7 separate regions of the Homo sapiens genome follow, and regions 1, 3, 4, 5, 6 and 7 are each linked to region 2. The links come from fine-mapping of genetic effects on gene expression. A gene starts in region 2. Each other region holds a variant in brackets. All regions are shown on one strand. Distances are between the middles of the regions.

Region 1 (4,553 bases), 68 kb before region 2:
AACAGAGACCGCCCAGCAGAGACCCTCCTGGCAGAGACCCCCCCCCAGCAGAGAACCCCCCAGCAGAGACCCTCTAGCAGAGACCCTCCAGCAGAGACCCCCCGGTAGAGATCCCCTGACAGAGACCCCCCCAGCAGAGACCCCCCCCCAGCAGAGACCCCCCAGCAGAGACCCCCTGGCAGAGACCCCCCCCGGTAGAGACCCCCGGTAGAGACCCCTGGCAGAGACCCCCTGGCAGAGACCCCCCCAGCAGAGACCCCCGGTAGAGACCCCCTGGCAGAGACCCCCTGGCAGAGACCCCCCGGTAGAGACCCCCTGGCAGAGACCCCCCGGTAAAGACCCCCTGGGAGACCCCCCGGCAGAGACCCCTCAGCCCCACCCGGACCCCAGCCGGGACAGCGGGGCCCGCACCCACTGACAGTCCATCTCTGCTGCAGGGGACCAGCCTCTCTACAGCATTCCCATCGAGAACATCCTGGCAGTGGAGAAGCTGGAGGAGGAGTCTTTCAAAATGAAAAACGTGAGTGTGGGGCCCCCAAGCCTCTCTTTCGGGTTGAGGCCTGGCCAGGTTTTCTCTGCTCTCTTCCCGTACCTGGCCCTGGGCTCACCCTTCCCCACCCACTGCACTCCAGGCTTCTCAGAGTCTTCGTGTTACTCGGGTTGTTCACCAGGTGCTGGTGAGTTTGTGTCGGAATCTCGCATCAAAGCAGCCACACTCTCTGTGCCCGGGGTCACCGGGGTGGGGTGGAACCTGCCGGAAGGTGGGGCCTGAGCTGCTTCAGGTGGCGTCCCCCGCAGGGTCCCCAATGTCAAGGGGCCCTCTGTCAAAGACATCCCAGAAGCAGGCTTGGGACCGTCTGGAATTCCTTTTGGAAGCTTTTTTATTTTGATATAATTTTGAATTTATAGAAGTTGCACGAGTAGAACAAGTACTTTCCACACACCCTTGACCCAGACCCGTGTGTGGCCTCGTTCCCCGGTCACGCTTGACCCGGGCCCACGTGTGGCCTCGTTCCCCGGTCACGCTTGACCCGGACCCACATGTCGCCTCGTTCCCCAGTCACACTTGTTCCTTCTCCCTTCACGGTCCCGCCCGTGCTTTTCTGAATGTATCAACACTTCCAAGTGTGTTTCCCACCGTGCAGTCCCCAAAACCACAGCAGCCACCATCGCACGTCGCCGGCGCGACCACATTCGAGTTTGCCGCTGTCCAGTCCCGTTCTTCCGGCTGTGGTTCCTTCCCCTCTGGATCCAGTCTGCGCTGCATTCTGCTGCCCCCTCCGTCTGGCCCACTGGACACTCCCAGCCTTTCTTTGTGTGTGGTGGCCTTGGCATCTTTGAGGCGTGCAGGCCTTCGGTTTTCTGGACATCCCTCCCTGTGGGTTTGTCGGATGTGCCGACGTGGCAGGTTCTGATGATGCATTTCTGGCGGGAATCCCCTAGAGGTGTCCGTGGCGTCACCATTGTGTGGTGGCCTCCCAGAGTCGGCCGCTGGCCACGTTCTCCCTGGTGACTCAGTGCCCCTTCAGCCAGTGACCCCGCCGTCCGTGCCATCCTGAGGCTGACCCCGTACCCTGACACATGCTGGCTGGGACAAGCCTTCTGTGCCCCGACTGCAGCATGAGGGTCATAGAACAGTTGCAGGGAAGGCACAGTCCCTGGGCCTCGTGCCAAAGTTGACGCATGTTCCTTACCATTGGCAGAATTTTACTAGCATGTTATTCACAGGCAGTCCAGACAGATCCTGCAAAAGGCATAAGTTTGGAGAGTAATTTGAAGAGGAGGGCATGGGAAGAGGAGGGCTGGGAAGAGGAGGGCTGGGAAGAGAAGGGTTGGGAAGAGGGGGAGATGGGAAGAGGAGGGTGTGGGCTCAATGCCTGCTGACTGAGGGGGATGGCCGGAACCTGGCCCTGAGACCGTCCCTCGAAGGAAGCAGTGTGGACATGTCCTGGAAGCACCTCC[A/G]GCCCTTCACATAGATTCCCAATAATTCCCTAGTTTCAGCCGCCTGTTCCCAGCTGTTCATTCCCACTGACTTCCTCAGAGCCCGATTCCCCTGAGGCCACTGCCAGGCCAGGCTCTCACCAGCTGGGGAGACCTTTCTGAAGGCTGCTCCTGGTGGCAGGGCCGAGCCTGGGATGATGGCCAGGACGCCCTCCATGGGGGATCACAGCCATGCACGGGGGCGTCCAGTCCGAGACCTATACACATGTGCCGGGTGCAAGGCGGGAGGCTCCTGGCCTCTGTAAATAAGACCTCAGCTGTTCACCAGAAACCTGGAGCCCAAATCCTCCCCAGATGAGTGCAGAAGGCCCGTCCCCTAGAGAAGGCCACTGTCCCCCTGACTCCTGACTTAAGGGCAAGTCCCACATGAGAGCCCTCCCAACCTCCAGTCAGTCTCCTACTCAGAAAACCTGTCTTCTGTGTGCAACAGAGCCGGCTCCTTCTGGGAGCTTCTGACCTCCAATCCTAGGATATCTGTCCCCCCTGCCCCAGCACCCCCGTCCCTCTAATCCTAAGGCTTCTGTCACTCCTGCCCCGGGAGACCTGTCCCTCCAATCACAGGACCCCTGTCCCACCTGCCCCAGGACCTTTGTGCCTCCCATTTCTTCTGCCTTTGACACCCTTTGCCCCCACCCCCTGCTTAACTAACTTTGAGTCAACGCCGACTACAGCACCAGGACTGCTCACTTCCAGCTTCTGCTGACACCTGCCCTCGTTTAGTCTTTCTTGGTGGCTGCAGGTTCAGTAGAAACTCTATGCCAGGCTTTGTCTCCGGGACATAGGAGAGTGCTGGTGCTCAGTCATGTTTGTTGAATGAGTAATAAATGGTAAAGGTTGTTGCTGCCCCGAGACGCTTCAAGAGGAAGCAGCCCCCTAACCCCAGCTGGGAGGAGGAGGAAGAATCCTGGGCTGGTCAGTTGGGGAAGGAGCTGAGCAGGCCGGGCCACCTGGGCTGACACAGCACGAGCACCACGTGGATGGGATGCCTGCAGTCAGCTGCAGGAGGGCCTTGTGGGGAGGCCACAGGGCCCCTCTTTTGTCTTGAATGGAGACCTCCAAGGCTCCAGGACATAAAGGGCCTTGGCCAAGCTGTTCCTGGCCACCTGGCCACATCTCCAGCTGCACCAGTTCTCACCTCCATTCCCCACGGCCCCAGCTGTCAGGTTTTAGGGTGGCAGAGAGCTCCATGCACCCCCTGGCCTTGGCCTCTTCTGGGGCTTAGAGCTCCAGGACTTTTGGGCCTGTGCACCCTCAGCGTCCCCTCTTACGACTCCGGCGAGGACGGCCAGGTGCCTGGTGGACTCTTGCACGTGCTCAGCCACGAGACCTCATGTGCGCTGTCCTGAGCCCACCTGTGTCCTCAGATGTTCCAGGTCATCCAGCCAGAGCGTGCGCTGTACATCCAGGCCAACAACTGCGTGGAGGCCAAGGACTGGATCGACATTCTCACCAAAGTGAGCCAGTGCAACCAGAAGCGCCTCACCGTCTACCACCCGTCCGCCTACCTGAGCGGCCACTGGCTGTGCTGTAGGGCGCCATCCGACTCGGCTCCGGGCTGCTCGCCCTGCACTGGGTAGGTCTGTGCCTCGGTGCCCAGCTCGTGCACTGTGCAGGAAATGTGGCCAAGGGGCTGAGTAGGGAGGGACCAGCAGACAGTGCATGCCTGCCTGTAAGCTGCACATAAACAGGGCTGCCCTCGCCTCCTCCCAGGAGCCTCCCACCCGAGGGGTCCTCCCTCGAGGGAGCATCTGGGGCCCAGCCTCTGGAAGGCTCTGCGCAGACTCCAGGGTGCCACAGGCCTTCGAGGGTCTTCCTGAGGCCCTGCCCCGGGGGAGCGGGAGGTCAGGGTGAAGGGGGACTCCCCAGGCCGTGGCCATCCTGCTTCTCTAGGAGGAGGCTGGGAGCAAGCCCCTCCCTGAAAGCTTCGTCTGGCCCAGGACACCCACCTTGATTCCACATGACGCAGCAGCCCGTTGTCTTCCCGGCCCCCCATCAGCCGGGTCCCCATCAGCCGGGCCCCCCATCAGCCGGGCCCCCCATCAGCCGGGCCCCCCCATCAGCCGGGCCCCCCCATCAGCCGGGTCCCCCATCAGCCGGGCCTCCCCATCAGCCGGGCCTCCCCATCAGCCGGGTCCCCCATCAGCCGGGCCCCCCATTAGCCGGGCCCCCCCATTAGCCGGGCCCCCCATCAGCCGGGTCCCCCATCAGCCGGGCCTCCCCATCAGCCGGGCCTCCCCATCAGCCGGGCCCCCCGTCAGCCGGGCCCCCCGTCAGCCGGGCCCCCCGTCAGCCGGACCCCCATCAGCCGGACCCCCCGTCAGCCGGGCCCCCCGTCAGCCGGGCCCCCGTCAGCCGGGCCCCCGTCAGCCGGGCCCCCCATCAGCTGGGTCCTCCGTCAGCCAGCCCCCCATCAGCCGGGCCCCCATCAGCTGGGTCCTCCGTCAGCTGGGCCCCCCGTCAGCTGGGCCCCCTGTCAGGCCCCCCATCAGCAGGGCCCCCCATCAGCCGGGCCTCTGGCAGTTGCACAGAGGCTTGGGTCATATCTGCCGGTC
Region 2 (4,553 bases):
GGTAGAAGGAAGAATTCTTTAACACAGAATATGGGTCTCTGAGGGAAATGTTATCTCGTAATTTTCTCACTTTTGGTGTATTTAAGCTGTAGGACAAGGAGTGAACCCTAACATTTGGTGAGAGTCTGTGAAACACACTAGGAACCCCCATGCTGCTTGCGAGTTACTTCCGAGAAACAGCAGAATGTCACACCCTGTCACCCGCAGGTGCCGTCTGAGGGGCGCTCATCCCCACCAGCCCGAGGGCCTCCCCGCCAAGGGAGGGGTGTACTCCCTTCCACTTGGCGTCTGCTTGTGCATTGCCCCTCCCTGAACTCAAGACCTGAGCCTCTCTCGCCTGGACTATTTGGAAAGTCTACAAATGGAAGAAGGGGTGCTCTCACTGAGTTGTGTCCGCACAAGGGAAACTGTCCAGGAGCCACAGAAGCAACCGCAAAGTGAGCCTCTCAGACGTGGTTAAAGGGAAGCCAGGCAAAAAGACTGCACGCTGTTGGGTTTCATTTACTCAAAACCCTAAAACAGGCAGAATGAGTCATCTGTGGTAAACCAGCATTGGGGTTACCTCTGGGGGCCGGGAGGGAACCCTGGGGTGCCAGTCACGTCTGGCGTCTCGGCCTGGGTGGTGGGGATGGCTCGCCAAGCCTGTTTGTTGCACACGTGGCATGTCAGCAGAAACACGGGGCAAATACACACGTGAACACAAGAACCCCGGGTCCCTCCCTCATCTACCCAGCGACCCTCAGTCACCCCAGCCGGCTCCCTCTCGCCACCCACGGGCTTTCTGTGGAGGCCCCAGCCTGGCCCTGGAGGCCGTGACCCACCCCGCCTCTTGCCTGAGGTCAGCCCAAGAGACCTTCCTGTCTTCGGCCTGGAGAAGGAGCGGCCGCCAGGACCACCCGGGCCTCAGCTCCCTGGGAGGGCCCCTGGAGGACCGGGGCTGCTAAAGTCCACGGGCATCACCGCATCTAATCCAGGCCCTTTGATGTGGGTGATGTTGATACTCCCACTTTACAGGTGGGGAAACCAAGGCTTCAGCTTCCGTGGCCAGGGGATGAATGGGAGTGTGGTCTGGATGGTGGCTCCTGGACCGGAAGCATGATGGGAGCCATGAGGAATGCAGGTTCTTGGGTCCTTCCAGCTCTGCTGGATTGGATGCTCGTGGGGGCTCAGGGTCAACACAACCCCCCAGGACTCTGACCTGGGAAGTGGAGCAGCCTGATTTGGAGGCGAGGACACACCAGGAGGCACCTTGCCCTGTGGCCACTGCACTGAGGCTTGAGAGATCACTAGAGACAGCTCAGCCTCAGTGCTCCCGCGCCCCCGCCTCGGTGCTCCTGCGCCCCCGCCTCGGTGCTCCTGCGCCCCCGCCTCGGTGCTCCTGCGCCCCCACCTCGGTGCTCCTCCACTCCCACCCCGGTGCTCCTTCCACCTCTGCCTCACCCGATGGACTGTGCCTTTGCGTTTCTTGTGCACAAATCCTGCTGAAGTCTGGGCAGCTGTGTGTTTGATGATGGGCTTGTAGGAGAGAAGCATCTGGACTGCGCCGTGCAGATGGCGCTTCTCTCCAGGCACAGTCACATTCCTGGGAGGTTCCTGGAGGCCTCCGAGCCTCGTGCAGACCCAAGGCTGCCTCACCACCATGGCCACAGCCCAGTGCTGGCTGCCGGGCATCAAATCTGCAGAAATGCACGTGGCATAAAAGCACCAGAGACATCCGTCCAGAGCCGAGGGCTCCTCCCTGGCCCAACATTTTGTCCACGTAAGTCCACTTTTTGGCTGCTGCTCCCAGGCCTGGCAAGAACGCAGATCCCCACAGCCTCCTGCTCCCTGGCAGCCTGAGGACAGTGTCGTAGGCCTGGGATCCTCGGGCAGAACTGAATGCAGCTTTTCCATTGGAGGGCGCTGGGCCCACATGGCAATCACAGGTATGGCAGATGAACTCACGGGATGCTCCGGGACTCCAGGGGCCTCAGGAGAAAGGCCCACTGGCAGCGGGTTGCCCAGGGCTCCAGAGGGGGGCTCCAATGTGAACCAGTTGCTTGTGGCACAGCGGGTCACCCAGGATGGCCCTGCGTGGTCAGTGATAACAGGCAGTCACTCACAGCGCGACTTCACCCATGGTCACTCCCGGTGACCAGCACTGCACAGCCTGGGCTTTCGTCCCACATGGCACCTCCCTGTCCAGCCTTGGCCCAAGTGCCTGGGAAACAGACAGGGCACCGTGTGCCTGAACACACTCGGACAGTCGAGGCCCCCAGGAGAAGCAACAGGCAATGACTCGGTCCCCAAGAAGCTGAGCCTGTCCTTGCTGGGGTCTGTCATCTCCTCTTAGCCCCGCCAGGCTCCTGAAGCTGCCACATGTGCAGCGGGAGGTGGGTGGTTTGGGAGCAGAGCGAGGCTCTGGATGGACGGGCTTTACCACCAGCAGCCACCACCACCTGCTCTGCAGGGCCTGGGCCAGCCCTGAGGAGGTGGCAGACGGAAGGAGGGGCAGCACTGCCTCAGGTCTCCTTTACTGTCTTCCAGACATCAGCTCAGGGAGAGTAGGCATGTAGCACTGAGAAACAGGGTTGCTCCCCATGGCTGCCTCTGCTTCCCTGCCGCACAGTGTCTGTACACGGCCTGGGGACCTGCGAGGCCAGACCGCAGGGCAGGGGCCCACGGCTGTGCCAGCTTCTCTCCCAGGCCGTGGCGGTTATTACCTCCTGACTTGGCAGAGCATCCGGCTACTGGAGCCCATTGGTTCCGGCCAGTGCAGTCAGGACTTAGCTTCCCAGCTGTGATCTAAATCCCAGCCTCCCAAAGGCACAGCGCCTAAGTTCTCCCCTGCCAAGCTCACAGCCTTCTCCTTGGCAGGCTGCCCTTTCTCCTGCTGGACCAAACCAAGGAGCACGGTGACCCAGGGACACCACACTCGGTGTCAGCCTCTGAGGCCATGGAGCCACGCAGACCCAGCACAGGATTAGAAACAGACCTTCCCGGGAGGCAGAGAGCCAGGCCTCCTGGTTTATAGCATGACAAGGCAGCACTCAGGAGGACGCATCAATCCTTCTCCATGTCAGCACCTGTGACTGTGACCACTGGTGAGGTGGACATGCTTCTTTTTCCATTTTACAGATGAGGAAACTGAGGCCAAGGGAGGGTCAGCAGCCTGCCCTGGGCTGACTGGTGATGCAGCGAGGGTGGGGTGTGGGAGGGTGGCGGCGGCCCTTGCAGTCCCTGGGAACCTGCACCTCTTCCTGGGCGCTGTTCCCCTCTCTCTCCCAGGACCCTTGGGCCTGGCGTTTCTTCACCTGCGACCATCCAGGAGCTGGACCTGCCCTAGGGCGTCAGTTTCCAGGGAAGCCTCTGGCCTGTGTGTGAGCCTCCCCACCTGCCCGGCCACGGCCTCCACAGGCGCCCTGCGCAGCCCCGCCCCTCCTGGGGCAAAGGCTTTGCGAAGACTTTCTTCTCTGGCTCATCCCTTTAAGGAGGCATAAAAACGAACCCCGGGCCTCACAGGTCCGGAATGCGCCCCCCTCCACGATGGGAGCTTCTTGGCCTTGGCTGTGCAGGGGCCGCGGCTCCTGGGGGTCTGGCCGGATCTGCAGTAGTGCTGAATGAGCTGTGGCCAGGAAGACGCAATGAATAATTGTCACTTAAAAGGATAAACAGAAATTCCATTTCCCTTTTAAATACTTGAACATTTCAAAACATCTGGAGGACGCGATGCTTTTCCTTCCAAGCATCTCCGTGGAGTTTTGTGGGTTACCGCAGAGGATCGGCAGCATTCCTCTCTCAGGGAAAACTGGCCTGAGCATTGCATAACGCAGGCAGACTGCACCCCTCACGTCGCCTGGGGCCACATGCACATGTTTCCAAGAGACTTGCTGGAGAATCTTCCCCGGATCTTGACAAAGTTGGACATGGAAAGCACGTTGGTCCATCCAAGGTCCACAGAGCGACCCTGGCTATGAAAAATCATCCTCCGAGTGGGAGTCTGTCTGCCAGGAGTGAGGTGACACCGCACATGGCCTCAGGAGCTGGAAACGCTGGTGAATTCAGATGCAGCCAAAGCTTCTAACTTAGTCACAGTTATTAATTATTCTTGGTCTTATTGGAGCAGGAACCACTGCCATGCATCAGGCCAGCAAGGCTCACTCCCCACCGTAGGATCCCTGTGTAGACGGTCGCTCCATCAGTGTAGTTGGGTGTGTGGAGCAAGGGACTGGGCTGACCCTACCTTCCAAGCATCGATGTGGCCTTCAGCAGAGCAGGAGGAGATAGCCCAGGACTTGTACTTTGCAGTTGAAGTGCCAGACCTAAGAAATGCAAACCTGAGGATGGAAAGAGGGTGGAGAGGGGGGAGGTGTCTGGATTGGCCGTCCAGAGCAGCCCCAGCTGCAGCAAGTGGAACTTGGCTGGCTGCCTCACAGGCCTGGTGGCAGCGTCCCCAGCGAGGAGCCTGTCCCACATATGAAGGTCCCCATACCCTTAGCCCCTAGCTGAGAGTTTCACTGACCAGAGCTCCCTGAGTCCAGGGCTCCACTCAAGGGACTGCTGTCCCCGTTGGT
Region 3 (4,553 bases), 240 kb before region 2:
GGGTGTTCAGCTGCTGCCTTAATCAATATTTTGGCCCAATATTAAGTTTAACGTTTTGTTTCTTAGAAATGCCTTGAAATGTCACCAAGTGATATCCTGAAATGTGGAGGCCGTTACATAGAACAGCTTACTATGTTGCATGCAATATGTAAAGTATTTGCTATATGACACATATTAACTCAGTCTTTAATATTCATAATTCTTTTCCTGTGTCCTTAACTCTAAATCCAAGCTTTGATTTTTCTGTTCTGCCCTCCCACAAAAGGCCGTATCTTCAAAACCAAGCAGCAACTTCGTTCTCATTCTGCAGAAGAGTGGTTTACAAACAAATCTCCAACCACTTCAAATTCACTCAACCTTCAACCTTTGGAGGGCAAATGTGCTTGCAAACATTGATTTCCAGAAAAGGTAACTGTGTCTCCAGTACCTTCTGTGTAGTGCAAATCACTCAAGAGCTGAGCTAAAGAAGCTGGGAGTCACCACCACCAGGAACTGCTGCGTGACCTGCTTAAGTCGACCCTTCCACTGAACAAAGCCAGAATCCTGGAGGCCATCTTGCATATACTGAAGAGCCCACCCAGGAGTCAGGAATTTTGAGGCTGTGGTCAAAAAAATCTGTCAGACCCCCGAGCCAGCACTCAGAGGGCTTCTCCTGAAGGCACTCAGGATGCCAGCGGTGGGGTCTTTGTGGGGGATGGGGCAGGTGGGCAGTCTTCATAGGAGCTGAAGTCTTCACCCTCAGGAAAACGTGGATCAGAAATAACCCATCCTTCAACAACTGCCAGGTTACAGCAGAGCAGGGGACAAGACAAGGAAGAGCCCTGCGGCCCAGGTTCACACAGTTGTGAAATTAGCTTAATGTCACAGTGCCTAAAAAACCCTCAAGTCGCGAAATTATCTTAACGTGGCCCTGGACTGATGACATCTCAAGATGCTGCCAACTTTCCAGTGTCTCAGTGCACCAAACATCTTGCAAAGTGAATCAATCCTGCAGAGAAGACACGACTAGCACCACAGGAACCTTGGAGCAGATGGCTCAGACACAGATGATAAGACTCACTCTGCTTCAAGGCACAAAAGACAAAATCGGAAATAGCTGCAGAGTACAGGAAACCATAAAAGTTTTCAATACAGAAAGAATGTTTACAACATTTGCAAAATTTGACCGTATGCTGGGCCATGAAAAAGTGTCCACATGTTTCAAAGGGCTGAAATCATACAGATAATGTTCACAGTGGCAGAGAGCCAGGAATTCATAACAAAAGATAACTGGGAAATCCCATGTTTGGAAACTAAGCAATGCAATTCCAAGGTCAGGAACAAGACAGGGATGTCCCTGTGGCCTTCCCTGATACAAGAGGAGCTCTTTGGATTAAGTGGATTAATGTGTTAGGGGTCTTGAACTGTCCACCTAAAAGGAAATTCAAAGGAACAGGCTCTCCAGAACAAATAAATTTAAGTGAGAATAGCACGGGATTGCATGCTATGATAGATCACAGGCACACTGGAGGGGCCAGGGCAAAGGGGAGATCTTTAAAGACAGAGAGAACTCCACAGAAGCTGCTTTGTAACAAAAATCACTGGTTAGCAGAGCTTGTCCCAGAGCTGGCGTTAGCTCCTTGTGCAGGCCGCTCACCTGTAATACCGACCTGTCTTGAGGAATTTTCGTGCAATGCATCCTAATATGGGCGAACCTGAGGCCCGTGCAGGGGTGCCTTGAGATGAGGCTTGTCCAGGTGTTTGTGTATGAGGGCGCCCCGTCATGGCCTCCCCACCCCATTTTGTTAGAGTTTGATATGAGTGAACCTATTTTGGTACTAGCAACTTTCACAGAACAGAAGGAGTTCAATTTGCTGGTAATTAGTCATGGTGGTGTTAACTGCAGCCTTACTCATGCAATCATTTCTCAAGAACCCTATTCCTGGGACGATTCACTTAGGTCTCAATCCCACTCTGGAAATAGTCTTAAAAAATTGATGCAGAAGCATG[T/C]GAAAGCTGAGTGTATAAACACATGAATTCCAGTGTCACTGGTTTACTGTTGCACAGAGCTGGAGCTGGGCCCACTCCACACAGAAAGTGATGGGGTGTGGTGCAGCCACTCTTGTGATGACTGGAAAGACAAACCCAGCAAGATATGCACAAAACTGCTCCTTTTACCAGTAAGTGGGGAGCTGAGCCCAGAAGATACCTTGGAAAAACTTCCTCTTACTAGCATGTGAGAAGCTGAGACTGGAAGACACCTTGGTAAAGTTAATTTGTTATAGGTGTGTTAAAGCAACTAAATATGGCCCAAGAAGGACTCTGTACTTCCAGATTTATGAGTCCTTGTGGATAAACTGCAGCCTAACTTAATAGGTAGACAAGATTGAAAACCTAATTTAGGAGTCTGAGCCTGTAACAACAGCTGAGTCTTGGCCAATTCCAGCAGCTGTACTTCAACCACTCACCCTGCTGAGTGTCCAAACTGTGTTCAAATAAGGCAAACCCTGAGCTGTAACCAATCCAGCTGTCTGTACCTCACTTCCAATTTCTGTACGTCAGTTCCCTTTCTTTGTCTATAAATATTCTTCCACTACATGGCCGTGCTAGAGTCTTTTCGGATCTGCTGTGATTCTGGGGGCTGTCCAATTTGTGAATCCTTCATTGCTTAATTAAACTCCTTTAGATTTAATTTGGCTCAAGTTTTTCTTTTAATAGATGGTGTCAGAAGTGGGATCTGATATTGTAGGGGTTATAAAATTTGGCTTTTGGAAATTCACAGGGATTTTTGTGTTCCACCCCTTTGTTTCATTTTCCCTGTGCGCTTAGGTAGAAAAAAATCATTGGTGTATTAATCTGTTTTTATGCTGCTGATAAAGACATACCTGAAACTGGGAACAAAAAGAGGTTTAATTGGACTTACAGTTCCACATGGCTGGGAGGCCTCAGAATCATGGCAGGAGGTGAAAGGCACTTCTTACATGGCAGCAGCAGGAGAAAAATGAGGAGGAAGCAAAATCAGAAATTGCTGATAAGCCCATCAGATCCTGCAAGACTTATTCACTATCATGAAAATAGCATGGGAAAGACCAGCCCCCATGATTCAGTTACCTCCCAATGGGTCCCTCCCACAACATGTGGGAATTCTGGGAGATATAATTCAAGTTGAGATTTGGGTGGGGACACAGTAAACCATATCAATTGGCTAAGTTAATCAAGGGAATCTGAGAGTAAAGCCAATATTTTAGGTAAAAATAGGATCCTTTTTTTTTTAAAATTATACTTTAAGTTGTAGGGTACATGTGCAGAACATGCATGTTTATTACATAGGTATACACATGCCATGGTGGTTTGCTGCACCCATCAACCTGTCATCTACATTACGTATTTCTCTTAATACTAATGCTATCAAAAATGGGATCCTTAGTTTCTAGAAAACTGAGTTCCTTCTGGCTTATACATTAGGCCTGGGAGGCCATGAAGTCTTAAAGAAATGGCAAAATCTTACTAAAGGTAACTTACAGTGGAATGTTCCAAATGAACAATGCACAAAAGTGCATTTAAAAATGAGGGTTCACAAATTAGTCTCATCTAGGGATGCATATTAATATGCAGAAGCTTTTAGAAAGATTTAGAGATGATGGGGCCAATCTGGGGGCAAGTTTGAGCCTTGCCAGTTTGATATTGGGGGCAAAGCAGAGTGGCTAACATCTATGTTTTGTCACATGTATTTTGCTCTGGCCAGAGCAGAAAAAGATAATTTTCCTTTGTGCTGTGGCTTGGCTGCATTGGCTTTGGTGCAGCAAGCCGGGTCAGTGGGGCCCTCGGGGAAAGGGAACCCAGAAGCCTAGCATGCCGACAAAATGCTAAGGATGCCTCGTGAGTCAGAGAAATCCTGGCCTCTTTTTCTCTGTGCAAACTGGTTAAATGAATAGTAAAAATCACTGTTTATCTCCTCTGTAAAGTTTTAGTTAATATGAAAAAGAATTCTGAGGCTGGTCTTAAACTGTAGTGAATCTGGTGTGCTTTGTGTGTCTTTCTGTATTGTTCTGTCATTAAAAGGGGTACCTTGGGATAAAATGCATGCCTAAAACACCATAAGCCCACTGTTCGAGATGCAAATTGGTCAGTTATAAACTTTGCTTCAGGTCCCTGAAAGAAGAAAAAGAAAATAAAAGTAGATGAGGTCTCCATCTTGTCTTAAACGTCCCTGGGGGCTTGAGCTTGTAACCACGTGGAAATGTTTTCCTCAGTCTCTCTATCACAATGGCTGCCAGGTTCATGGTTCAATTCCCGGCTTAGGGAATGAGTACTTTCTGATTGATATTTGGGTGACATTTGCCATTTTTAAATCCTCTTCCCCTCCATGAACAGTCTTGAATTTTCCTTTCTGTAAGCACAAAAATATTGGCTGTTGGGCCTGGCTAAAGTCGGGTAATAAGAAACTTAAAAGAACTTTTATTAAACAGTGCTATAGATAATAGTCAGCTTCATTAAAAGTGGATATTCAAGCTCCAAGAGCCTGGGACTCTTTAAGAAAAACAGGGGCACCAGAGACCCCTTCCTGGCCCCAT
Region 4 (4,553 bases), 220 kb before region 2:
CTCCACCCTCACACCGTGCATCCCACACCTTCCCCCTCCAGGTAACACCCTACACCCCTACACCCCACCACTGGCCCTAATCTTCCATCCCCATGCCCCACACCTCCACTTTCCCCTTAGCCCCTCACCCTCATGCCCTGCACCCCATACCCCACTGCTCCCACAGCCTTCCACCCCATGCCCCACACCTCTACCCTGCCCAAAGCCCCCACCCTCACCCTCACACCCCACCCCTCCTCATAGCCCCCACCCTTACATCAAACTCCCCCTACATTCCACCCTTCCCTAACCCCCCACCCCGTGCCCCACACCTCCACACCCCACTCCTCCCCTGAGTCCCCCACTTCCACACCCCACAGTCGCACACACTACCGGTCTCCCAGCCTTCCACCCTCACACCTTGCACCTGCGCACCCTCCCCCTCCCCCAGGCCCCACCATCATGCCCCCACACCTACACCCTCTAACTCGACCTTCTAACTCCCTGAGCTCCCACACTCTGCATCCCACACCCCACACCCCACCCACCCCGTTAGCCCCCACTGTCCCATGTCTCATGACCCACACCCCACACCCTCACAGCCCCCTCCACCCCCAACGCCCCACTACAGCCCCCCACTCACCATAACTCCACACCCCACCCCTGCATCCCCCATCCCCACCCCTGCATCCCCCATCCCCCACCACTTTGCCCCATGTTCCCAACCTCCCCAATCTCCCCCATGCCCCACACCTTAACCCCCTACCCTTATACTCTACCTGCACATCCAGCACCCAACCCCAACTGCAATCCCCTACACACCTTCCACGGCCACTCCGCACCCCCACACCTCACGGGCCTCCACACTCCTCAGAGCAACTGGAGCCTTGGGCCTCAGTGGTGGAAAGAGGAGGGTGAGCCTCAGCAGCTGCAGGAAGTAGCAGCCTCCTGGGACAGCTCATCTAAGGAGGACAGGCCCCCTTAACCAGAGAAGCCCCACAGGGTCTAGACACAGACAGAGTAAGGCTTTTTTTTTTTGAGACAGAGTCTTGCTCTGTCACCCAGGCTGGAATGCAATGGCGCGATCTCGGCTCGGCTCACTGCAACTTTCACCTCCCGGGTTCAAGCGATTCTCCTGCCTCAGCCTCTTGAGAGTAAGGCACTTTTTAACAAGGGAAAGGGGCTGAGCGTGGGGCGGCGCTTGCAATCCTAGCACTTTGAAGGCCTAGGCGGGAGGTGCTTGAGCTTGGGAGTTGGAGGTGACAGTGAGCTAGGATCACACCATGGCACAGACAAACCAACAGACAAAAAACGGGAAAGGCACAAATGAAACGATGAGAGCAGCAGAGAAGTGTGGCCACAAGGGGAAGGAAAACTGAGCAAACGTATCTCCTGGAACAAAAACATCAACCTTCCAAATCAAGACACACCCACAGTGGAACACAGAATGCTTAGTGAAATTTTTAAAAGAGGATTGGTTAGAAACTATAACATGAAATATGACAAAACCAAGGGCCACTGCATCCTTCCTCTCAGTCTACATAAGTAAATAAATTCGACTCACCTCTTCAACAAAAAGACTCGTGGGATCATTCGCAAAGTGAAACCCAACTTTACGTTGTGTGCAAGAAACAAGCAGAAAACACAGCAGCCCAGACCTTCCAAGGCAGAGGTCGAGGCGTGCAGGCAGGTCCTGAGAAAATGTCAACAGGCATGGAGATGATGGAGTGATGGAGATGATGGAGATGATGGAATGAGGAGATGATGCAGTGATGGAGATGATGGAGCATGGAGTGATGGAGTGATGGAGACTATGGAGATGATGGAGATGATGGAGTGATGGAGATGATGGAGTATGGAGTGATGGAGTGATGGAGACTATGGAGATGATGGAGATGATGGTGTGATGGAATGATGGAGATGATGGAGATGATGGAATGATGGAGATGGTGATGATGGAGTATGGAGTGATGGAGATGAGGGAGATGATGGAGTGATGGAGTGATGGAGAGATGGAGATGATGGAGATGGTGGAGTGATGCAGTGATGGAGATGGTGGAGTGATGTAGTGATGGAGATGATGGAGGGATGTAGTGGTGGAGATGGTGGAGTGATGCCTCTAGGCTCTCGGCAAAATCTGCTTTTATCCTGGACCCTAAATTAAGTGTGTGGGAATAATAAAGATATTTTTAGACTCATACGGACTCAGAAAGTTTAGGCCCTGTATGATTTCTTCAGAGCAAGTTGGCT[G/A]AATTCTCACTATCGTAGTCGGAAGTCTGGCACAGACTCTATCTAAAATTAGTGAGTAGAGAGTGTTGTAATAACAGGAGGAGGTTGGAAATGCCTGACCAGAGGAAATAGTCGTCGTGGTTGCCATGCGGGCGGACGGGGAGATGGTTGAGGCCACCACTGCCGCCTCCCAGCACAAGCCCTCAGCGTTTTTAACCAAATGCACATGTTGTGCTTTCAATGTTGCTTTCAGCAGGAAGGCACATGGAGCTTTCTGAGTACTGACCCCGTCCCCCTCACACTTGCCTTTTGTTCTCTGAGCTGCCGGCCTCAGGCAGTCCGCGTCTTGTTTGAGTAAGGGAGGCTGCCCCGTTCCTGCTACAAGCGTCCCTTGCCGGCATTGCTGCTGCCCGTGTGACTTCCTGACTGGACATTTGCCACTGGCAGCAAGAAGCCCAGGCCCCTCCGATTCTGCTCCAATTAGGCCCAACCTGAGGGGCCTGACCGGAGCCCCATTTCCCCGTTGTGTCTTGACCAAAAGAATACCAGGTGGGCCATTACTTGCTTTCCAACAAACAGGTGGTGAGGAAAAAAACTTTTCCTTCACTCACTTATGTTTTTTAGTGACTGGAGTCCTGCAAATTGAACTGGCAAAAGTAGATTAACAGGAGAAAAAGCGTTACTTCATATGCATGTGGCGGCTTCACGAAATGAGACAAAAACCCCGCAGAGGCAGTCAGACCAGAGGCTTATTCACGATTTTAACAAAAGGCAATACATTTGTGAAGTGATGAGCTACAGGAAAACAGTGTTGGGTTCCTAGGGAGGTAAACTGTGAGCGGGGAATGGTGTGAGGAAACCACGGAAGCTGGGATTATTTTTGTGCGGGTCCTTGAGTGGAGCTCTCCCAGTCAGGTGAGGGTGGTGTCTCCAAGCACAGCAGGCACTGTGGCGCCGGGGAAAGAGCTGGAGCCTAGGACTGTCACACCTATCACCCGTGGGACAACAGTTATGTGTAGACTTGGGACTGGGGGACAGGTTCAAACCATGGTCTGCTACTTGCTGGTGACATCTCCTTAGGCAAAATCCTTAAATTCTCTGTAGAAAACAGCTCTAGCAATAGCATCCATTTCATGGGGTTACAGAAGAATTGAACGACTTAATAAACGCTAAGCACCTGACCGTGCCTGGTGTGCAGCTAGCTGTCACCACGTGAAGTGCTTAGCACAGCACTGGACAGGACCCTGGATGGAGGGCAGCGTGGCCGTGTTTGCTAGGGCTGCATTGACAGTCGTCAGCTGGGCGCTGCCTGCTTCAGCACAGACGATGCCGTTCCTCAAGGCGGTTTTATGCCTCTTCTTCAGAGTCAGTAGCACGTTCTCTAAAATATCCTTAAATATGGCAAATCTTTGTCTTTAAAGGTAAACTTGAATTTTATTTTTCAATACAGACCAAAGTAATTTGGAATCAAGTATTTTACAGGAAGTGAGTGATTCAGGTAGGCAGTGACACTGACCCAGAAGTCAAAGCGCCGCCTGGCTGTTGCAGCAATACCGGGCGGTGCCTAGGCTCATTCACTCGGCCCTGCTACCTACTTGGAAGAGCGCCCGGGCAACCGCCTACAGTCTCGCAGCTGTAACCTCCTCATCTGTCGAATGCAGAGGACAACACTTCATACCTCACAGGGTGATCTGTTCTGTTGGTTCACCTCGGAACTGAGGGGCTTCCTTGGACACTAACACTGGACGGTCGGGGGCAAACCGTGCAGTTGCCCCCCTAGAATTAGATGATCCGTGTGCACGTGGCACTGGTGAGTGCTCTGGAAATAGCTTTTCTTATTTCTTAAAAGTTGTTTTTAAAGATAGTTCAGAAACAATGAGTGTTTTGTTGAAATGGTGAGTTTGTGATGGTGCCCAGACTTGCCTCCATACACCGAGCCTGCATGGCCCTTCCCCTGTGACCGCTGGGCCTGGACACACGGTGCAGCTTGACCAAGGGGACAAAAGCAGCCCTGACACCAGCAGAAACTTGGGAAGTGCTTGAAAGGCATTGGACGTCCCCGCTGTTGCGGTGGGAACCTTCTGCTGCCAAGTGGGCAGGCCGAGTTGGCCTCCTGAGAATGAGGGAGTGAATGACAGAGACCTCAGGTGCCTCGGAGGCCATGTCTCTGCCAAGGCCTTGCACGTGTGAGTGAGGCCCTCTTCCACCCCAGCCCAGCCCAGGAGTCTCAGCCCCGAGAACCTTCCAGCCAACCCTCAGAATTTCGGGAAATGATGCTGCTTCCTTTACACCACTAGGCTGGTGGTGGTTTGTTATGTAACCAATTGAGAGATCTTTAAAAAGTT
Region 5 (4,553 bases), 48 kb before region 2:
CGTAGGAGGAGGTGCACACACATGGAGGTAGTGGACACACATGGCAGGAGGTGCACACACATGGTATGAGGGAGGTGTGCATGTGGGGAGGAGGTGCCCACGCCTGCTGAGTGTCCCAGCACTGGGACAGATCTGTGTCCCTGGAGCTCATGCTCCCCACACATGAGCACACTCTTTGCAGTGCAGATGTGCACATTCTGCACACGTGCCATACACTCTACATATTCCACATCTGCACATGTATATGCGCTACACACGTGCCACAGGGAGAGCACACGTGCACATGTACTTGCACGCCTGACCCACCTGTGCACACACATCAGAGTCACCGTGGGTGCTTCCGGGGGCACTGTGGTTCCTTTGGCTCCTCTATTTTTTGTGTGGATTGCAGTGTGAGTGTGTCACATTTAGGAACAGGAAAAGCTCCCGCAGCCACGGGTGAGCACCAGGCAACGGGGTCTGTGCCTCATTCCCTCTCCCATCCCCCTTTTCAGGGAGCACCCCATCGGAGACAAGAGCTTCCAGAACTACATCCGGCAGCAGTCCGAGACCTCCACTCATTCCATTTAAAGTCTGCGGGACGCGCCCAGTGGCGCCAGCAAGCTGCCCATGCAAAGCCGCAGCCTTTGGGAGGGAGAAGAGAAGGAAGAGCGCAGAGCCGGCAAAGTGAGATGCACGCCGTCCCGGCCCATAGACAAGTGGCGCTGGGGTTTCCCTCTCCCAGAACCGCTGCCACCACCGCCACGCCCTCCGCAGAAAGCCCACCTGGCCCTGTGGAACGTGTCGTCATTTGATTCTGTGCTTTTTGCTCCTTGTTTGTGGGGATCTGGGGATCAGCTGAAGGATCAGGAAGTGTGGGCTGTGCCCTAGCCACACCACAGCCAGCCTCAGGGAGCCACGGCCCGTCTAGTCGACTGTGACATGCACCTCCGGCCGTGTGTGCGTCAGTCTCGTGCACGTCTGTCTTGCGTGCACGGTGCGTGTGACGCTGGGCTCTGTGGCTCTGTGCCCGGGAGGCCTGCTGGCCCCGCCTCGGCTTTCGGCTTCATCACATTGGGAGGTTCAGAGCATTACTCTCCCACTGTGCCTGCCATCCAGGCAGCCATGGGAGGCGGCCTCCCTGTTCCACTTTCGAGGTTCGTTTGATTCCTGGCTGAGGGGTCAGTTTTATGGCTGGGAGGTGCAGAATTACACAGAAGTCCCAGTCTGAGGATGTCCTTGGTGCTTGGGGGATACGGGTTCTGTCCACAGAGTCCCTTGGAGGGAAAGGTGTGGGCTCCAGCTTCTCCAGGCGTCTGCGGAGCCCACAGTTGAAGCCCACATCGTTTTGCTGTTGAATGGGGTTTAAAATCAGAATTAACATTTGCCACCCCCCGTGGAAGTTTGAAGATTTTAAAAATAGAAATGTACATTTTTCAAGCTGTTTTTCTTTATGTTTTTGAAGGACCATTTTTAATTAGCTCTTTGATACAAAGTAACTCAGAACGTCAAAACCTATACCCACTAAAGGGAAGGCTGCCGGGAAGGCAAATGGAACAGGAATGGAGCCTGTCTCAGGAAGGCCAGCTGCAGGTCCTCCAGAAAATCAAAGAAGGGAAGAAACTCTGAGTTTGAGGTACAGGGGCTTCGGGGTGCAGACGTCCCTCCAGGGCCCATGGTCAGTATTGCACCTGTGTTATGAACCCCCAGATGCTGTGCAGGGCAGGGGCGGGGGCTGCTGTTTTATTGGGGAGGGGAGCATCCTAAAAATGGGGTCCAGGCAGACCCCTCCAGACCTCACACTGCCGAGGAGGCCTTTCCCAAAGGGCGTCCTCCCGGGATGCAGACGGCAGGTGTGTGGGAAG[C/T]GCCGTTTAAATACACAGCACGACGTATCCTTGTACCGACTTCTCCCGGTTCTTGTTTGAAAATACTGTAGTTCAGGCTCTTGATCTAGATGGCAGATAGGAACTTTCTTGTCACAAAAATACTGGAGGAAAATGTTGTAAAAATAGACTTTTGGACACACAGCTGTTGGGGCTGCACTGAGCTGCAATTTTTAACATGGATTTATAACTTAATGTTTCTGTTTATAAAATACTAATGATTTGCAATGTATTTTACTGGCCAATTAAAACAGATGTTTTATTCTTTCTGAGGACTGCCTTGGTTTTCCAGTGGTACCCACTGGGAATTGCACATGTGGGCATTAGGGGTGGGGGGTACAGGGAGGAGGGTGGCACCTGGGGAGCAGGATGACATTGCTGATGCCAAGTGACGTCCCTGGTGATGGGTGATGCTGCTCTGACAGGTGGCACTGCCCTGATGACAGGTCACATTGCTGATGCCAAGTGACATCTCTGGTGACAGGCAGCGCTGCTCTGACAGGTGACAGGTGACATCGCTGGTGACAGTTGACGCCTCATGACGGGCAGCGCTGCTCTGACAGGTGGCACCGCCCTGATGACAGGTGACATCACTGGTGACAGTTGACATCTTTGGTGATGGGCAGCGCTGCTCTGACAGTGGCATTCACCTGTGGTGCCTCAGGTGAGAGTCCGGCCCTGTGATAACCTCAGGAAAGGTGTGTCCACTCAAGGAGTGCTGGGCAGACAGACCACCACGTGCTGCCATCTCCAGGAATGCAGAGGGGGAGGCCACTTGGAGGCCCTGGGAGAAGAGAACGGACTGCGCCTCTAGGCAGGTGGCTGCTGTCCCTCCAGGCAGGAGAGGGTTAAGGGGGGCTCTGGGTGAAGACTCCATGATACGTTGCCTCATTTCTTTATTCCTTTCCTTGCTCCATTTGAATTCCTCTTTTTTGGTAATTCTATTGTGAGTCAGCTCTGGTATGAGAAAAATGAGGAGGTGTGGCTTTGGGGACACCAACCCAGGCCTTTCTCCCAGGGAAGGGTGAGGCTTGGTTCAGCCTGGCCGGCCTCCTTAGTCCATGCTGAGGTGTGGGGTCTGCCCCAGTCCAGGAGTGGCTATGGGTGGTGGACAAACCCTTGCAGGTGGGGGCATCCTCCCCGGGAGGCCAGCCCGTCCTCCTGGAGCCACACTTCCCGGCAGGGCCTCAGGCAGTGTCGGGAGCCAGGGGGCTCCGTTCACACTCTGGGCACAGCTGTGCTGGGGTCAGCCCAGGAGGGCCAAGGTCAGCCCCTCCAAGAGGAAGTAGAAGGGCAAGGAGGACGAGGCCCCAGGGAACGTGGAGAATGGAAGCCCCTTCTGGAACAGCCAGGAGAGTCCTACAGGGCAGTGGGAGGTGGGAGTGTATGGGGGCCGGAAGCCCCTGCGCGTCTCCACTGATATGGTTTGGCTGTGTCCCCACCCAAACCTCATCTTCAGTTGCAGCTCCCATAATTCCCATGTGTGGTGGGTGGGACCCAGTGGGAGGTGATTGAATCTGTGTGGTGGGAGGTGATTGAATCTATGTGGTGGGAGGTGATTGAATCTGTGTTGTGGGCGGGACCCGGTGGGAGGTGATTGAATCTGTGTGGTGGGCGGGACCCGGTGGGAGGTGATTGAATCTGTGTGGTGGGAGGTGATTGAATCTGTGTGGTGGGAGGTGATTGAATCTGTGTGGTGGGAGGTGATTGAATCTGTGTTGTGGGCGGGACCCGGTGGGAGGTGATTGAATCTGTGTGGTGGGCGGGACCCGGTGGGAGGTGATTGAATCTGTGTGGTGGGCGGGACCCGGTGGGAGGTGATTGAATCTGTGTGGTGGGCGGGACCCAGTGGGAGGTGATTGAATCTGTGTGGTGGGCGGGACCCGGTGGGAGGTGATTGAATCTGTGTGGTGGGTGGGACTTGGTGGGAGGTGATTGAATCATGGGGCGGTTCCCCCATACTGTTCTCGTGGTATAAGTCCCACGAGATCCGATGTGAAAGTTTTATGAGGGTTTCTCCTTTTGCTTGGTCTCATTCTCTCCTGCTGCTGCCATGTAAGACGTGCCTTTCACCTTCCACCATGATCGCAGGGCCTCCCCAGCCATGTGGAACTGAATCCATTCAACCTCTTCTTTATAAATTACCCAGTCTCAGGTATGTCTTTATCAGCAGCATGGAAACTGTCTAATACACCCACCAAGAGACTGCAGGTGGCTTTGTGGAGACCCCAGTGACGCCCATTTGCCCTTGTTGCTCCAGACGACCCAGCACTTGTTGGAGAGAGACAGCGGCCTCCTCTCCCATCCTGGCAGCATCCGCGGGGCTCCCGACATCAGAGTGTCCAAAGCAGGTGCCTCTGAGGAACCGTCCCAGGAGGCCAGGCAGTGCCAGAGCGTGTGTGAGGCCAAGGCCCCCACCCTGCACCCACCACTTGCCCAGAGAGCTGAGGCCTCCTGGGTGCTGAGAGGCTGTGGGCTCTTCAAAAGAAGAGATCAGAAGGAGGGGAGCCTGCAGCCTGGGGGTCACACCTGCTTCCCCCTGGCTGAGGAGCCCCGGGTGCGGGAAGCGGGTCCTGGGGGCGGGGGGGTGCGCCGGCTCGCGAGGTGCCTGTCAAGGGGCAGAAGGGGCTGCCCAAATAAGCCACACTGTTGTAAGGGTTGTTTTGAGCTGAAACAGCCATCCACAAGGAT
Region 6 (4,452 bases), 25 kb before region 2:
TGAAATGGGAGCATATGCAGGTACAGGGGAGACCCCCCAGTGCACTTGATGAACGGGGGTGCATATGCAGGTACAGGGGAGACTCCCCAGTGCACTTGATGAAAGGGGGTGCATACACAAGTGCAGGGCAGACCTCCCAGTGCACTTCAGGTTGGGGGTGCTGCTCTCGGGGTGCCTGTGGCCACAGTGCTGGCCCAGGACCCTTTCTCACCCACCTGCCCTCCTCTCGCCCTGCAGGATGCAGACCAGCTGGGTGTGCTGCATCCCGTACTCCACCAGGAAGAGGGCAAAGGAGAGCACCTAGCGCCCCGGAGAGGGTGCTCAGAGCTTGGCGAAGAAGAGGAAGGAGACGGGGTGCAGAGGGGCTGGGGGCACAGGAGGCGGGACGGAGGGCGATCCGGCCACCTACTTGCCGCCCAAGAGCCTTCTCTGCCAGGCACTGAGGTTTCTGTTTTCTTCTTGTGGGACTGGCCAGGCCTGGAAGGAGCGAGAGCACAGACTGCGCCTTTGGGCTAAAGATCCCGCCAGCTCTGAGCAACGCTGGGGTGCCGATGACCACACCAGGTGTGAGCCACGCCTGAAACCCACTGCCCACTGGGTGAGTGATGACGTGACCTTCAACAAACACAATAAACAAGCACGGGAAGATGCTCCTCCTCTCCACCAGATGCTCCTCCTCTCCACCAGATGCTCCTCCTCTCCACCAGATGCTCCTCCTCTCCACCAGATACTACTCCTCTCCACCAGATACTACTCCTCCTCTCCACCAGATGCTCCTCGTCTCCACCAGATGCTCCTCCTCTCCACCGGATGTTCCTCCTCTCGTCGAGATGCTCCTCGTCTCCTCGAGATGCTCCTCGTCTCCACCGGGTGCTCCTCGTCTCCACCGGATGCTCCTTGTCTCCGCCGGATGCTCCTCCTCTTCGCCAAATACTACTCCTCCTCTCCGCCAGATCCTACTCCTCCTCTCCGCCAGATACTACTCCACCTCTCCGCCAGATCCTACTCCTCCTCTCCGCCAGATCCTACTCCTCTCTGCCAGATCCTACTCCTCCTCTCCGCCAGATCCTACTCCTCCTCTCTGCCAGATCCTACTCCTCGTCTCCGCCAGATGCTCCTCCTCGTCTCCGCCAGATGCTCCTCGTCTCCGCGAGATGCTCCTCCTCTCTGCGAGATGCTCCTCCTCTCCACCGGATGCTCCTCCTCTCCTCGAGATGCTCCTCCTCTCCTCGAGATGCTCCTCGTCTCCACCGGCTGCTCCTCGTCTCCGCCGGCTGCTCCTCGTCTCCGCCGGCTGCTCCTCGTCTCCGCCGGATGCTCCTCCTCTCTGCCAGACACTACTCCTCGTCTCTGCCAGACACTACTCCTCCTCTCCGCCAGACACTACTCCTCGTCTCTGCCAGACACTACTCCTTGTCTCTGCCAGACACTACTCCTCGTCTCCGCCAGACACTACTCCTCGTCTCTGCCAGATGCTCCTCCGCTCCACGAGATGCTCCTCCTCTCCACGAGATGCTCCTCCTCTCCACGAGATGCTCCTCGTCTCCGCCAGATGCTCCTCCGCTCCACGAGATGCTCCTCGTCTCCGCCAGATGCTCCTCCGCTCCTCGAGATGCTCCTCCTCTCCACCGGATGCTCCTC[A/G]TCTCCGCCGGATGCTCCTCGTCACCGCCGGATGCTCCTCGTCTCCGCCGGATGCTCCTCCTCTCCGCCGGATGCTCCTCCTCTCCACCAGATACTACTCCTCCTCTCCACCAGATACTACTCCTCTCTGCCAGATACTACTCCTCTCCGCCAGATACTACTCCTCCTCTCCGCCAGATGCTCCTCGTCTCCGCCAGATGCTCCTCGTCTCCACGGGATGCTCCTCGTCTCCACGGGATGCTCCTCCTCTCCACCAGATGCTCCTCCTCTCCTCGAGATGCTCCTCATCTCCACCGGATGCTCCTCGTCTCCACCAGCTGCTGCTCCTCTCCACCAGCTGCTCCTCATCCCCACTGGATGCTCCTCATCCCCGCCGGATGCTCCTCCTCTCCGCCAGATCCTACTCCTCCTCTCCGCCAGATCCTACTCCTCCTCTCTGCCAGATCCTCCTCCTCGTCTCCGCCAGATCCTCCTCCTCGTCTCCGCCAGATCCTCCTCCTCGTCTCCGCCAGATGCTCCTCCTCGTCTCCGCCAGATGCTCCTCGTCTCTGCCAGATGCTCCTCCTCCCCACGAGATGCTCCTCATCTCCACCGGATGCTCCTCATCTCCACCGGATGCTCCTCGTCTCCACCAGCTGCTCCTCGTCTCCACCAGCTGGAGGACTCCAGCCCCTTCCTGCCCTGGCCTCTTGCTCAGTGGCTTGTTGGGTGGGGACAGAGGCCCCTGGGGCACAGCAGGGGAGGCTCAGCCCTTTGTGGGCCTCGTGTGAGCTGCAGCTCCTGGAAGCACCCCCACCAGGCAGGAGTGAGAGGTGCAGGGCAGGGATGGAGCATCTGCTGTGTCACCAAAGTCCCTGCAGGAGCCAGGAGCACGGTGGACGCAGCTGAGCCCCGGCTGTGACTGCGAGAGCAACAGAGACTGTGGTGCTGGCACTAGGATCTGTCCCTGGAGGGAAGCCACATGCTCCCCACTCAGAGGAGGAGAGGGAGTCTTCCTAGGGGTGTGGGGGGCTCCAGGACATGCCTGTAAGACGAGTTTCACCAGAATCCACCCAGAGCCCTCTCGTTCAGACACGCACACGTGCATATTCATATGTACACAGCACATACATGCTCGTACATACCACACATGTGCACAGGAGGGCACGGGCAGGTGACCTGCAGCATCTCTGATCCGGGTGTCTCTAAGGCAGTCAGAGGCCACAGGCGGAGATGCTGTGTGCACTGTCTATTCCCGTGGAGACACATGGGGGCCGTCCCTGTGGTGCACATGATAATGCAGAGGCTCCCAGAGGGTGAGCTCTGCCCATCACTCAGCCAGGGAGGGAGGGGCCCTTTTCAGGGAGCCGCATGCCACGCAGAGCTTGTCCCACTGGGTAGTTTCCTCTGATCAAAGTGGGGCACCATCCAGGCTGCAGAGAGAAAGGGGACCCCCCAAAGCCAGCACCCACCCTTGACTGAAAGACACCACAGAAGATAAGTGCCCATCGGCCCCAGAGTCATCATTTCCCAGACAACCGGAAATGGGCCCTGGACGGGCTGTCCTGGACAGGCTGCCGGGCAGTTGGGTGTGACTCAGTTGCGGCCTCCAACTGTGCCAACCAGAAAGGCACCCAGAGAAGCTTCCGGAAATACGGTTGGTTTGTCCCCTTGGTGGGGCAGGAGGCGGCAGCTCTGCCGGGTGGCTCCCAGCACCCTCCCCCACAGAGCAAACATCGGCATGAGTCTGTCCACCCGTGTATTCGTCCTGTCGCCGCGTGTGGCTGGCCTCATTCTGGGTATGCTGGCGGCAGCCACCTCTAGGACAGGGAGGTCCCATGGCTCTGCAGACACAGGAGCTTGGCAGTGGCTTAGCTGTTAGAATGTGAGCCTTCCAGAGTCAGACGCGCCTTTGCCTTCTGTTGGGCTCTGAGCTCATTTCCTCAAACCCAGGGTAATTCTGTTCCTCCTTCACTGTCTGGTGGGGTGGGGGTCACAGTGTCCGGGGGAAGAGCTGATCAGGGCCAGTGCTGGGGTGGGAAGGGCTGACTCCTGGGACCCCGGAGAGGTGATTGTTGCCACGGGGGGTAAAGTTCCACGTGCTGCTCCTCTGAGCCTTGATTCTGGGCACTCCAGGGCGGCCAGGCCTGGCTCACACCTTCCTACCTCAGGGAGATTTCCGTGGCGCAGGCACACGCCCTGTGGGATGTGAGTGGCCACCTGGCTTGGGCCCCAACTCCCATCAGAGAAGCGGGCAGGTCCCGAGCGAGCTGTTCAGGGCACTCAGCAGCCACACACCCAAGGAATGGGGCTGCCTTGTGCCAGGCCGGGGGTCTGGGGAAGGGCTCAGTGGGCGCTGAACTCAGAGGGTCCTGGCAGCGGCAGTCAGCGTCCAGGATGGTCAGCGGTGAGGCCAAGCCCCGTCTTAGTGGAGGGGACGAGGCTGGGCTTTGGAGACTGTGGGGAGCAGGAGACATCCCTGAGGAAACAGGTCTACGCGCCGCAGAGCCCGAGAGCAGCTCCTGCCACGTGGTTGATGCTGCTGAGGCCGGGGGCTGCCTCTGCCCCGCCGCCCCGCCCAGCATGAGCGTGTTCCTGCTGCTGCCCGGCCCGTTGGGCTGAGAGGCTCAGGCAGCAGCGCTGGGGTCGATGGAGTGGACCAGGCAGGGGCCCAGGGCAGGAACCCCCTGTAGATGCACAGCCCTGAGCTCAGCAAATCAGCTGTGGTGACATCCAGGGAGGGGTGGAAGCCCAGGCTCCCCCTAGAAGGACGCTGCCCTTGGCCTTCAGTCCTATGGGGCACAGATGCCGCCTGGGCTTTCTAGGGCCGGC
Region 7 (4,000 bases), 41 kb before region 2:
CTGCAGTCACCTCCTCACACCTTGAATACTGGCCCAGAGCACAGGGCTGAGGGGCTGACACGGAGCTGCGAGCTGGCGCTCCCCTCCCCTCCCGCGGCCTCGGCAGCTCCGCCTCCCCTTCGCAAAGGTGTCCACGGGGCCGTGGAAGTGAGACAGCCCGGTAGGACTCGGGGTTTGCTTGCTCAAGCCCTGGGGACAATTTTAAGAGGTAATGATGTAAAAATATGTGTTCTTCTCTGAGTTTAAAAATCCAAATATGTGCTATTTGGGGGGCGTGAGTAGTTAGGAGGCTGCACCCTACCTCCCTCCCCACGGGGTTCCCTCAAGACGTGCAAAGTTCTCAAAAGAATAAGTTACGCCAAGGCTGCTTAGCGGGAATTTAAGTTGGGGCGGGGAGTGGATCTCCAATAATGCCGCCCGATGCCACCACAGTGCGGACTTAGAGGCCGGGGTCGGATGGAGGGAGGGATTGAGCCCCATTGTGGCTGACATTTCCCTCAACACCTGCTGGATTTGCCCAAAACTGCACGATGGGAGGTGCCGCAGCAGGGAGGCCGGGCTTCTGTGTGGCCGCTTGTCCTGTCTGGCAAAGATGTCCACCCTGCACAGCCTCCCCCAGGCACCAGCACCCTCAGGGTTCGAGACCACGGCCCAGGAGCGCATCCTCCCTGGAGCTTTGTGGCTGCCCCCAGACAACTGAGATTCTGCCGGAGAAGAGCAGGAGGCATTTCCAGCCCTGTGACCCGAGGAGAAGGGCCGGGCCTTGCTGACCACTGGTAGAGTCCGACGTGGCCTTGGTTTCTGCAGGGACTCAGCTCCTCACCCCTCGCAGACTTGGTGGGCTCCATGACATGCCCAGTGCCACGTGCACCCACAGGTGCCCGGATGTGTGAGACGCCGCGTCCACTTCACAGGGAGGCCTCCGGGATGCGGGAGACGTGGGGTGGCCGACTTCACGGGGGCACCAGTGGGGTGTGTCTGGGCCTGGGCCATGCGGAGCACAGGAGACCAGCGCTCACGGAGGGCAGCCCAGAGAGGCCGGCAAGAGCACAGTGAGAATCCGCTGGGTTCCAGACCCACTGAGGCCCTGCCTTGAGCCCACATGCACCCTGGACGCCTGTTGATTCTGCAAAGGCTCTGCGCTCCACCTCTGGGCCCCACTCGTGGCTTCTCTGTTGGGGGCAGCCCCTCGTGGTCGGCCATTGGTCTCATTTCCCTGGAAGAGCCCCATTCCCCAGCTGCCCCTTGGGCCTGTGGGCTGAGCTGAGTGACCTGCCTGGAGTGGCCCATGTGACTCTGCCGAGCTCTGGGAGGAGGTCTGGTCTCTTCCATCACAAGCATCATTTAAAGCTTTGGAATCATCCCTGTTGTATTTGAATCCCGGGCCAAGGGGGTGTTGTGGGAAGAGGGAGTAGCTGCGGGAAGCCAGGGTCTCCGCAAACATTCCCGGCTCCGATGCGGCTGGAGGCCCTGTGGGATCTGGAATCCGCTCACTCCAAGGCTCTCCTGAGCACCTAGGGCTTGGAGAATCCTCTGCCACATGACTTCCTCACAAGGCTGTGCTGGTTTGCAAGCTCCTGGGAACGGAGAACTCAGTGTTTAACTAGAATGGAATGTTTCACGTTGGCCAAGTCAGTCAACACCTTTAGCCAAGTGTGCCAGGGAGCAGTGTGTGCTCGGTGCAAGCCGGTGGCCAACAGCCAGGCTTGGGTTCCTGCCGGGAGCACCAGAGCACCGCTCACCCGAGTTGATGTTCCTGGGCCCCTGTCCTCTGTCACATCAAGGTAAAGATCCTCACGAGACATAAAGTGGTCCCGAAAAAAGACTGCTAGAAACATCCCGCAATGCCTCTCGGGGAGCCCAGAGACCCTGGGGATTGGTGGATTTTCCTGGACAAGCCAAGTGGGGTTTCAAGTCCCACCTGTCCGTGAGAGGAAGCCTGGGT[T/G]GGGGGTAGTAGCCGGCATGGGCAGGTCTTGTGGGCTTCTCCCACCCTCCCGCTCAGCTACCTCCAGCCAGCTGTGCTAGGACAAAGAGGAGTTTCAAGAGGTCCCGGAGCCTCATGTGTTTACTGTAAGGCGGCTGGCCATGCCTCACCCTGAGTCCTGCAGGGAGAAGGTGGAGCCCAGGTGTGGGCTGAGCTGCTGGGGCTGAGCCAGGCTCAAGGCCCTGGCACCAGGCTGTGGAAAGTGCCGATAGCAAATACCGGAGGGCCGGGCATGGGCACAGGTCGGGGAGAAACTCAAGTTAGCTGTAGCCATGGCTGAGAGTTGAGCTCTGCTGTGGGTGGCTGTGGGCGGCTTGGGGCAGGTCCTGAGCTCCGGTAGCTGCGGTGTAATGGTGCTGACGGCTCTGTCCTTCCTCCCCAGAGTCCGAAGATCAAGGGAAAGACCCAAGCAGTAACGCGGAAGATGCCAGCTGGTAAGCAGCCTGTCCGACGCTGGCCTTTGTGAAGGTGGAGCTGGGAAAAGTGAGGTGGACACAGGAGAGGGTGGGGTGTGGGAGTGGTACCCGGGCATCAAGGTAGACACTTAGAAGGGGACAGAGGGAGCCCTGGGTCCTGCGAAGACCCCGCGCAGGGCCTGGATGGGAGGGCTGGGAAATCCTCCTTATTTTGAGAGGAATTCAGCGTGGGAACAGGACCCACCTGTAGCGGGGTGGTGTCCTCAGGACTCGGGCCCTGGCCTGAGGGTCACACAGCTGCATCCCTCTCAGTAGACACCCCATGGCCCTCTGGGGAAGGAGGCGTCGTCTCACTAGTGGACTGCTGGGCCCACCTTAGATGTAAACAACTCGAGTGCTCCTTTAGGGAGAGGGCGTGGGGCCCTGGACAGCACATCCCCACTTCGTACTGCCGAGTTCTTGCCTCCCTGCACCTCGCGTCCCGTTCTAACCCAGCTCTGGTTCTCCCACCCACTCACCCTCCTGCCATCAAAGAAGACTTAAAAGTCATTGAATTCCTCAAAAATTTGTCTCAGATCTAACAAAGTCGATTTACCAGCACCATGGCAAGGCACGGGCCAAGTCCCCCTTATTTACAAATGGCTCCCGTTGAGTGGAGACCAAGGAAGGTGTCCGGCCGCCGAAGCGGCCAAAGGTGCAATCAGTTGGTGAGAGTGAGTGTTCGTGTGTTAGACAGGATGTGTGCGGCGCCTGGAGCCTCCCACTCCGTAGAGCTCAGGGAAGCTGATGGCCTTGGTGAGGGCAGTTGAGCTGGGAAGACCACACACCTTTAGGGTGGCAAAGCTGAAAGCGTCTGCTCACGTTGGCCAAGTCAGTCAATACCCTCGGCCAAGTCAACGCCATTGCAGATGGTGGCGGAGCCCCTGTCATCCTCACTGCCTGTTGCATTCCTCTTGCCCCTGGCCACACACCATAGCAGACCACAGAAGGGGTCACGAGGTTGGTGCGAGTAACAGCAGGGCCAACCGTGGACCCTCCAGCCTACTGGCCAGCATGGCCCATTTGGTATCCACATGGAGTGTGGATCTGCGACAGGGTGGCTGCATCTTCTCATCAGATTTTGGTTCTTTGAGCAAGGTTAGACCCTGCTTTCCAAAATAAGCCCAGGTTGGCTGTAATCCCAGTCCAGACCCTGGCTGTACAGGGTAAGTTTTCCAGGCAAGATGGGCCAGCAGAGGGAGCCAGGAGGGCCAGGCTGTGGGGCCCTTCAGAGCCAGAACTCTGTGCTGGGTCAGGGCACCTCATAGGTGCCCACCAGACCCCAGGGGCACCAGCCTCAAGCCCAAGGAGACAGACCCAGAGGAGACCAGGAGCTGCCCGCAGCTATCTGCCGTCTCTTCCAAACCACTTTCCCTGCTCCTCCCGCAGTCAGAAAAACCTAGCACAAGACAAGAAGGAAAGCTTCAGCACCCTTGGGAAGCTGGGTCATGAGAGTGGAAAACAAGACCCAGAGAGGGAGAAGAGCGACTTGGAGGCCAGCATGCAGGAGGTGCAGGAAGGCGAGCACGCAGACGGAGGCTTGCAGGAGGCCAAGGTTGGG

Which allele goes with the higher level. Alleles are on the strand shown, and positions count from the first base shown. SD is a standard deviation of normalised expression in the study named. Not every link is listed here.
With allele G in place of T in region 7, the expression in testis of the gene that starts at base 2,755 in region 2 is lower (moderate effect, 0.44 SD a copy in GTEx).

The links.
Region 1: its variant is fine-mapped to the expression of SWINGN in whole blood (TOPMed, PIP above 0.99).
Region 3: its variant is fine-mapped to the expression of SWINGN in whole blood (TOPMed, PIP above 0.99).
Region 4: its variant is fine-mapped to the expression of SWINGN in whole blood (TOPMed, PIP above 0.99).
Region 5: its variant is fine-mapped to the expression of SWINGN in whole blood (TOPMed, PIP above 0.99).
Region 6: its variant is fine-mapped to the expression of SWINGN in whole blood (INTERVAL, PIP above 0.99).
Region 7: its variant is fine-mapped to the expression of SWINGN in testis (GTEx, PIP above 0.99).

Annotation. Positions count from the first base shown.
Region 1 is chr13:113,995,552-114,000,104 of GRCh38, reverse strand. RASA3 (RAS p21 protein activator 3) reads left to right here. Exons shown (of 24, transcript NM_007368.4): 20 at 438-520; 21 at 3,366-3,574. Among named protein-coding and RNA genes, the nearest start is that of C13orf46, 24 kb to the right of the region's middle. The variant A/G (reference allele first, on the strand shown) is at 1,963.
Region 2 is chr13:113,927,193-113,931,745 of GRCh38, reverse strand. It overlaps SWINGN (SWI/SNF complex interacting GAS6 enhancer non-coding RNA), which reads left to right and starts at 2,755. Exons shown (of 1, transcript NR_047495.1): 1 at 2,755-4,553. It also overlaps a transcript of C13orf46 not described here. RefSeq lists an enhancer at 740-809.
Region 3 is chr13:114,171,358-114,175,910 of GRCh38, reverse strand. No RefSeq gene overlaps it. Among named protein-coding and RNA genes, the nearest start is that of CFAP97D2, 5.6 kb to the left of the region's middle. The variant T/C (reference allele first, on the strand shown) is at 1,990.
Region 4 is chr13:114,151,033-114,155,585 of GRCh38, reverse strand. No RefSeq gene overlaps it. Among named protein-coding and RNA genes, the nearest start is that of RASA3, 21 kb to the right of the region's middle. RefSeq lists enhancers at 3,788-4,288, 4,289-4,553. The variant G/A (reference allele first, on the strand shown) is at 2,230.
Region 5 is chr13:113,975,364-113,979,916 of GRCh38, reverse strand. RASA3 (RAS p21 protein activator 3) reads left to right here. Exons shown (of 24, transcript NM_007368.4): 24 at 495-2,134. The coding sequence ends at 570. Among named protein-coding and RNA genes, the nearest start is that of C13orf46, 3.6 kb to the right of the region's middle. RefSeq lists an enhancer at 529-1,029. The variant C/T (reference allele first, on the strand shown) is at 1,845.
Region 6 is chr13:113,952,625-113,957,076 of GRCh38, reverse strand. C13orf46 (chromosome 13 open reading frame 46) reads left to right here. Exons shown (of 7, transcript NM_001365455.2): 7 at 238-3,372. The coding sequence ends at 304. Among named protein-coding and RNA genes, the nearest start is that of C13orf46, 19 kb to the left of the region's middle. The variant A/G (reference allele first, on the strand shown) is at 1,642.
Region 7 is chr13:113,968,589-113,972,588 of GRCh38, reverse strand. C13orf46 (chromosome 13 open reading frame 46) reads left to right here. Exons shown (of 7, transcript NM_001365455.2): 2 at 2,367-2,418; 3 at 3,829-3,994. Among named protein-coding and RNA genes, the nearest start is that of C13orf46, 3.5 kb to the left of the region's middle. The variant T/G (reference allele first, on the strand shown) is at 1,946.